Linked DNA regions of Homo sapiens. The protein of the gene in region 1 purifies or fractionates together with the protein of each later gene. This does not show direct contact. Each region holds a gene or a part of one and is shown in the gene's direction. Other genes may lie near its edges.

Region 1 (4,145 bases):
CTTGTTTTCTCAGCTACTACAATATGCTGCTTCTGGTTAGATATATTTGTAGTACTGCAATTATTTATTTATTTATGAGACAGGGCTTGCTCTTGTCATCCAGGCTGGAGTGCAGTGGCGCCATCTCAGCTCACTGCAACCTCCACCTCCCGGGTTCAAGCGATTCACCTGCCTCAGCCTCCGGAGTAGCTGGGATTACAGGTGCGTGCCATCACACCCAGCTAATTTTTGTATTTTTAAGTAGAGATGGATTTCACCATGATGGCCAGGCTGGTCTCGAACTCCTGACCTCAGATCATCCGCCCAAGTCAGCCTCCCAAAGTGCTGGGATTAGAGGCGTGAGCCATCGCGCCCGGCCTGCATTTTAAATTAAGGAACTGATTCTACCTCTGCCAGGCAGTTCCCTCAACTAGAAACCTCTTCCCCGTCTACATAACTCCCTGATCTCCTTCAAGTCCTTGTTTAAATGTCACTTTCACAACGAGTACTATCCTGACTGCCCAGATCAAAATTGCAACCTGACCCTCATCCGTTATACCCCGCTGTGCTTTTTTCATAGCATGTATTTAGTATATCATATAGTTTTCGGATTCACCATATGCTTCTGTTCTCCTCCAACACATGAGCCCCACTAGGTCACGGGTTTTTAAATCTGTCTTGCTAACTGACGCATCTTAGCCAAAAAAAAAAAAAAAAAAGTCCTGGCACAAACTACGTGCTCAATACCTATCTGTGGAACAAACGAAGGTTTAAAACCATGGCATGACTCCGCATTGCTTTCTTACTTTAAAGCATAAACATACATACACACATGGGAGACAGGGAGAGGATATTTCAAAATGTTAATGGTGATTTCAAGTGATTTTTTTTCCTTCTTTATGTTTTCCTCTATGTTTTCCTGTTATGTTTATGTTTCCTGTGGTTTTATACCCCAAATTCTACGTGAAAATGTATTCTCTTACCATGAGAAAATTGCTTTTGAAAACGTCTCTCTAAACCTAGAGTAACGTGCATTGCCGCGCAGAGTGAATTGGTTTTGCTGTAAATCTCATGAAGCCGTTTTCCTGCATGAAACACAGTAAAAAAAAAAAAAAACTGGAGTGGTATTGACGACCTTTAAAAAAAAAAGATTGTTCTGAAATCATCGCTTGGTGTTTTGCAGTGGTTAAATGTTTATTAAAGGAATAAAAATCCATTCCTCCTTGGCGGACCGCGGCGTCCCTAGGGAACACACCCACCTAGCAACCGAGACCAGAGCTGGAGCGCTGCGCCTTTAATTCTGGGGCGGGCGGGGGGCGGCGGGAATTTCTGCTCCGGTTCCCTCTGCATCGCGGGGGCAGCTGTCACCTGTAAGGCGAGCGCGGCGCGGGGGATGGAAGCAGGCGCCCATTGGACAGAATACAAAGGCAGAAACCTACCCCGAAGGCCGGGGCCCGGCGGGGCGCTGGGGGTGGGCGCTCCCCGCGGCCCCCGGCGCCCTTCGCCCCGAGACGCCCCGGCCCAGCGGCACTGGCGCGACCGAGGTCCAGCTTCGGGGACACGCCCGGCTGGCCGCGGGGAAGGCACCAGGTGAGCGCGGCCGCGCCTCCCGGAACCCCGCTCCCGCGCGTCCCGCGGCGACGCGGCGCCCACCCGCCCCGGGAGCCAGGAACCCAGGGCCCCACCATGGCGCTGGCCGCCGCCGCCGCCGCTGCGGCTGCCGGGGTGAGCCAGGCGGCGGTGCTGGGCTTCCTGCAGGAGCACGGCGGGAAGGTGCGCAACTCCGAGCTGCTGAGCCGCTTCAAGCCGCTGCTCGATGCCGGCGACCCGCGGGGCCGCGCCGCCCGCAGGGACCGCTTCAAGCAGTTCGTCAACAACGTGGCGGTGGTGAAGGAGCTCGACGGCGTCAAGTTCGTGGTGCTGAGGAAGAAGCCCCGGCCCCCGGAGCCCGAGCCCGCACCCTTCGGCCCCCCGGGGGCAGCGGCCCAGCCGTCGAAACCCACTTCGACGGTCTTGCCGCGGAGCGCCTCTGCCCCGGGAGCTCCGCCCTTGGTCCGGGTGCCGCGGCCAGTGGAGCCGCCAGGGGACCTGGGTCTGCCAACAGAGCCACAGGACACCCCGGGGGGGCCGGCCTCCGAGCCCGCTCAGCCGCCCGGGGAGCGGTCCGCCGACCCACCGCTTCCAGCCCTTGAGCTAGCCCAGGCCACCGAGAGACCCTCCGCAGACGCGGCCCCACCGCCTAGGGCCCCTTCTGAGGCGGCATCGCCCTGCTCTGATCCGCCAGACGCGGAGCCCGGGCCCGGGGCAGCGAAAGGGCCGCCGCAGCAGAAGCCCTGTATGCTGCCGGTGCGCTGCGTCCCGGCCCCCGCCACGCTCCGCCTCCGGGCGGAGGAGCCCGGCCTGCGCCGGCAGCTGTCGGAGGAGCCGAGCCCGCGGAGCTCCCCTCTGCTGCTGAGGCGGCTCTCGGTGGAAGAGTCCGGTCTGGGCCTCGGCCTGGGCCCGGGCCGCTCCCCGCACCTGAGGCGCCTGTCGCGCGCCGGCCCGCGTCTGCTGAGCCCTGACGCCGAGGAGTTGCCCGCCGCGCCGCCGCCGTCCGCGGTGCCCCTGGAGCCGTCCGAGCACGAGTGGCTCGTGCGGACTGCCGGGGGCCGCTGGACCCACCAGCTGCACGGGCTGCTGCTGCGCGACCGCGGCTTGGCGGCCAAGCGCGACTTCATGTCTGGCTTCACGGCCCTGCATTGGGCCGCCAAGAGCGGCGACGGCGAGATGGCGCTGCAGCTGGTGGAGGTCGCGCGGCGCAGTGGCGCACCAGTCGACGTGAACGCACGCTCCCACGGCGGCTACACGCCGCTGCACCTGGCTGCACTGCACGGCCACGAGGACGCTGCCGTGCTGCTGGTGGTGCGTCTGGGTGCCCAGGTGCACGTGCGTGATCACAGCGGGCGTCGCGCCTACCAGTACCTGCGGCCCGGCTCCTCGTACGCGCTGCGCCGCCTTCTTGGCGATCCAGGCCTGCGAGGCACCACGGAGCCAGATGCGACCGGTGGTGGAAGTGGCAGTCTTGCTGCCAGGCGCCCCGTACAGGTGGCCGCCACCATCCTCAGTTCCACCACCAGTGCATTTCTGGGCGTCCTGGCTGACGACCTCATGCTCCAGGACCTGGCCCGAGGCTTGAAGAAGTCGAGCTCCTTCAGCAAGTTCTTGAGCGCCTCGCCCATGGCTCCACGTAAAAAGACAAAGATCCGCGGTGGTCTGCCAGCCTTCTCAGAAATCTCTCGTCGACCTACTCCGGGGCCTTTAGCTGGTCTAGTGCCCAGTTTGCCTCCAACAACCTGAAGGTCCCTGGGGCTACCACCTGGTTGATCTATCGTGGCCTGCTCGTCGCAGTCCAAACCCGCCCAAGACTGCAGCCCAATCAACGCCTGGAGCCTCATTCTGTTTCCAGCTTTGTCCAGGGCAGCCTGTTTTACCCAGATGGGCCTGCACCTCCAGCTTCTTTCTGAAGCATGACCCATCTCCAGAGATGGGATTTGAGAAATCAGTGAGAGCTTCCTATAAAGAACTCCAGGAGACAGGCCTGAACTCTAGAGGGAACTTGAAATCCAGGGTCAAAGGTTAAGGGGCAGCAGCTGGTCTGGCCCCTGAAAGCCTTCACCTGATGCCTCTGCAGCTACACAATCCCAAGACAGAGCTAGAGCAAGGGTCTCTTTAAATGTTGAAAGATGTTAGGTTGTCAGCTTTAAGATATGTGGTGGTTTTGTAATTTGATGCTTTTATTCTGTTTTTAAATTGAAATGAGGTAATGCAACTTTCGTAATAACCTTTTGGAATTATATTTTTCCACTTTTAGGCAAAGTGCTTAGACATTTTCAATTTTTTTTTTGCTAAATACTTTGGAATTCTATTTAAAAAATAGATGATCAAGATCTAAAGGAAATTAATCCCAACCAACAAACTTAAAAGTTTATCTACCTCGTTTTAGGCAATCAAGATTCTGGAGAGTCTTGAACACAGAATAACGATTGTGACCATTATGAATGTAACTAATTTCAGTTGTACTGTGAATGCTAAATATTTGCAAACAAGTACATCTTGAAAGTAAAGGTGACTTAGAGAAAAGAGACATTTTGACAGATACTTTTAATTTGTGGTTGTCTCCATCATGA
Region 2 (4,082 bases), on another chromosome or scaffold:
TGGGGGTCTCGCTGTGTTGCCCAGGCTGTCCTTGAACTCCTGGCCTCAAGGGATCCTCCCAGCTCACCCTCCCAAAATGCTGGGAATACAGGCATGAGCCACCGCAATGGCCCATTTCTTTATGTAGTCTTCCAGCTGTTCAGCCAACACTTAACTCTGAACCAACTGCCAGTCTTTCAATCTACTAGTGACCTGAAAGCCTTTCCTGGCTGACCCAACATATACTTCCCATGTATTGATTTATGTCTTTGCCTGTAACTACTGTCTCCCTAAGATGCATAAAACCAAGCTGTAACCCAACTACTTTGGGCTCACGTTCTCAGGACCCCCTGAGGCTGTGTCACCAGCCATGGTCACTCAAATAGGAGGCCCAGAATAAAACTCTTTATAGACTTTGACTCTTTTTGGTCAACATAACCTAACCCTAAACATAATCCTCCTGGGGAAGGTAGGATCACAGGTATCTCTTCCTCGTTCAGTTTGTGTGTGTATGTCCTTATTTCTCTACGGTTTTTAGGCATTCGCTGTGTGATCTAGAAAAGCTATGGAGTCTCGCTTTGTCGCCAGGATGGAGTGCAGTGGCGTGATCTCGGCTCACTGCAACCTCCACCTCCCAGGTTCAAGTGATTCTCCTGCCTTAGCCTCCCGAGTAGCTGGGATTACAGGCACGCGCCACCACGCCCAGCTAATTTTTGTATTTTTAGTAGAGACAGGGTTTCATCATGTTGGCCAGGATGATCTCTATCTCTTGACCTCGCGATCTGCCCGCCTCGGCCTCCCAAAGTGCTGGGATTACAGGCTTGAGCCACTGCGCCCAGCTACAAATTCTATTTTCTTTTTGTTCCTTGGAAAGCATCGCTGGGCATTTATCCTGTCCCAGTATTTGAGTGAAACTTCTCAGCATTTCAGAGCAGTGACCATGATACACCCTTTCCTTTCCTTCTCCTTATGGGAAACTCCGTTCTAACCCAGAGGACTTGGGCTCCAGGACCCAGTAACGGAGCCCTGGATTTGACCCTAAAAGGGAGTAAAGACAAAGGTGAAGTTCAGTCCGGGGTTCAGGGCTGCCAAAGCTCATAGCCTGGAGCTTCTTAACCTTTAGGCAGGGTAGAGACATTTAAGACGGCCCCAAAACTGGGGGAGCGCGTAGGCTCCTGGGAAATAGAGTCCGTTACTTGTCCTGGGACCCGCGGTGGGTGTCCCGGGAGGCGGACTTCCGGTGCACTCCTGCGCTTGTGCACCTCTCCCTGCGTGCGTGTTCGCACATGCGCGCCACCTCCGCACTGCCCTCGCTTCCTGTGCCTCTTCAGGTCATCGCTTGCTCTCGTTCCCAGGCTTTGGCTTCTAGTGGACGAGAATCACCGAGTCTGCGGGGCTGGATGCTGACCGCCCGGACCAGCACCTAGGCGGGCGGGAGCTGTGCGGCCCAGGGTTCGCGCGGGCCGGGTAGAGGCTCGAGCTGGGACCCCCGAGCGTGAACCCCGGAGCCGGCGGCGCTGGGGCCAGAGGGGCCGGGAGCCCCAGGGAGGCGGATCTGGGCCCCGAGAAGGACACCCGCCTGGATTTGCCCCGTAGGCCCGGCCCGGGCCCCTCGGGAGCAGAACAGCCTTGGTGAGGTGGACAGGAGGGGACCTCGCGAGCAGACGCGCGCGCCAGCGACAGCAGCCCGCCCCGGCCTCTCGGGAGCCGTGGGGCAGAGGCTGCGGAGCCCCAGGAGGGTAAGTCTTGGGTTTTTGGGCCCGGAGCGAGAAGGGCCTGGGTGAAGTCACCTTGTGTTGGGGACCTTTGAGTGTGGGGCAGAGGGAGGGTCCCGATTGCTTGCCGGAGAGACATGTGTTGGGTTTGAGGGCAGGGTCCGGCTGCACCGAACAGGTGCTGCATGGGAAGATCTGGGAGGACGAGGCTTACGGAGGCGTGGAGGGTGTCACCACCCTCAGCTGCGGACGTCGTCTCCACTCCCCGCTAACCCCTAACAGTCCTTCCTCCTCCTCTCCGTGCTCCAGATTTCGACCGCCTCTAAACGTCCGTCAGCACTTCTATTCTCTCACTTAAGTGTCTGCTGATCCCCCCCCTTAGACCTGCCCTGGGAGAATCGTAGTAATGCAGGAACAGTCTGCAGGGATTCTCTGCTGCTGCCTCAGTTGCTAGGGGAAGAGACTGGGCCTTAGGTGGGTGACTTGACCAGGTCACCGGCTTTGTGGGTAGAGCTGCTCATAGTAGAACCCAGGAGACTTATCTCCCAGGCCAGTGTTCTTTCTCCCGTATCCTAGTTTTCTTAATAGAAGATTATTAGGTGCAGCAATAACCAAGTTCAGTTAGATAATTTAGAAACAAAACCATATTTTATACACATTCATTTCATTTCTGAGAGCTCACATACTCAATTCCTATGGCTTATTTTATTTTAAGCAGTTTAAAGAGACAATAAGAAAATGCGGGCGGGATGCAGTGGCTCACACCTGTAATCCGAGCATTTTGCGGGGCTAGGGCAAGAGTATCCCTTGAGACCAGGAGTTAGAGACCAGCCTAGACAACATGGGGACACCCTGACTACAAAAAATACAAAAGTCGCCAGGCATGCTGGGATGCATCTGTGGTCCCAGCTACTCAGGAGGCTGAAGTGGGAGGATGGATGGAGCCCAGGAGGTCGAGGCTGCAGAGAGCCGTGAATGCACCACTGCACTCCAGCCTGGGTGGCAGATTGAGACCCTGTCTCAACCAACAAACCACAAAAAACATGAGCCGTATAATGGGAATTTTTTTTCTTTTTGCGCCTTGTATTTGATGATGATGGCAGACTATTTGTAAAAGGAGTCATGTTACCCATGAGAGTCTAACTCATCTAATTACTACCTGATTATCTTAGAGTTACAGGCGCATGCTTCCCCTATCACTCTTTTTTTTTTTTTTTTTTTTTTTGAGACAGTGTCTCTCACCCAGTCTGGAATGCAACAGCGTGGTCTCGGCTCACTGCAACTTCCACCTCCCAGGTTCAAAGGATTCTCGTGCCTCAGCCTCCTGAGTAGCTGGGACTACAGGCATGTGACTCTATGCCTGGCTAATTTTTTTTGTTATTTTTAAGTAGAGACGGGGTTTTGCCATGTTGGCCCAGGCAGGCGGATCACTTGAGGCCAGAATTTGAGACCAGCCTGGCCAACATGGTGAAACCCTGTATCACTCTTTTAGACCCTTCTGAGTGTTTGCAGGTTGAGTGTTCACAGGGTGTTAGCCTATTGAGCTTTCTTTTGCGGTTCTTATGCAGGTGATTTCTGCCTTTGCAGGCCGGAGCCCTCATGACTTCAGTGACCTGCTTCTGCCCCTCTAGGTCTATCAGCCACAGTCTCTGCATGTTTCCAAGAGCAGCAGAAAATGAACACATTGCAGGTGAGTTTTCCTGCTTGTGTATATGTTCCTCAACTTTATTTTATGATGCATTTTAAGAGGTTTGTAAGGATTCATACTTTTTTTTTTCTTTTTTTTGAGATGGAGTCTTGCTCTGTTGCCCAGGCTGCAGTGCAGTGGCATGATCTCGCTTCACTGCAACCTCCACCTCCTGGGTTCAAGTGATTCTCCTGCCTCAGCCTCCTGAGTAGCAGGGATTACAGGCGTGGGCCACCATGCCCAGCTAATTTTTTGTATTTTTAGAAGAGATGGGGTTTCACTATGTTGGCCAGGTTGGTCTCAAACTCCTGACCTCAGGTGATCCTCCCGCCTCAGCCTCCCAAAGTGCTGGGATTACAGGCATGAGCCACCGAGCCCAGCCAGGATTCATACTTTAAAATGGGAATGTGGAAATAGACATTATCCTGTAAAATATAGTTAGTGTGGCAGATCAGCACCAAAAATGATTTGTGAAGCTTGTATGTATGGGTAGTATATTTTAAGGCTGTTGAAATTGAGCCGCACCTAGGACTGATACTCTTGGCAGTCATCACAAAAGGAAAATGCCATCTGTATTAGTCCATTCTCACACTGCTATAGAGAAATAACCAAGACTGGGTAATTTATAAAGAAAAGAGGTTTAATTGGCTCACGTCTGCAGGCTCTATCATAGGAAGCGTGGCTGAGGAGTCCTCAGGAAA

What was found. Proteins that work in one complex are often made in the same cells at the same time.
Region 2: the proteins of SOWAHA (region 1) and POM121C purify together in Homo sapiens (affinity purification with mass spectrometry, with the first as the bait; one large-scale study listed by BioGRID). This does not show direct contact.

What each region holds. Positions count from the first base shown.
Region 1 is NC_000005.10:132,811,957-132,816,101, forward strand, and holds the start of SOWAHA (ankyrin repeat domain-containing protein SOWAHA precursor), read left to right. Parts: upstream 1-1,345; 5' UTR 1,346-1,665; coding exon 1,666-3,315; 3' UTR 3,316-4,145.
Region 2 is NC_000007.14:75,483,500-75,487,581, reverse strand, and holds the start of POM121C (nuclear envelope pore membrane protein POM 121C), read left to right. Parts: upstream 1-1,282; 5' UTR 1,283-1,718; intron 1,719-3,262; exon of another isoform or gene 3,263-3,384; intron 3,385-4,082. UniProt on the Homo sapiens protein: Essential component of the nuclear pore complex (NPC). The repeat-containing domain may be involved in anchoring components of the pore complex to the pore membrane. When overexpressed in cells induces the formation of cytoplasmic annulate lamellae (AL).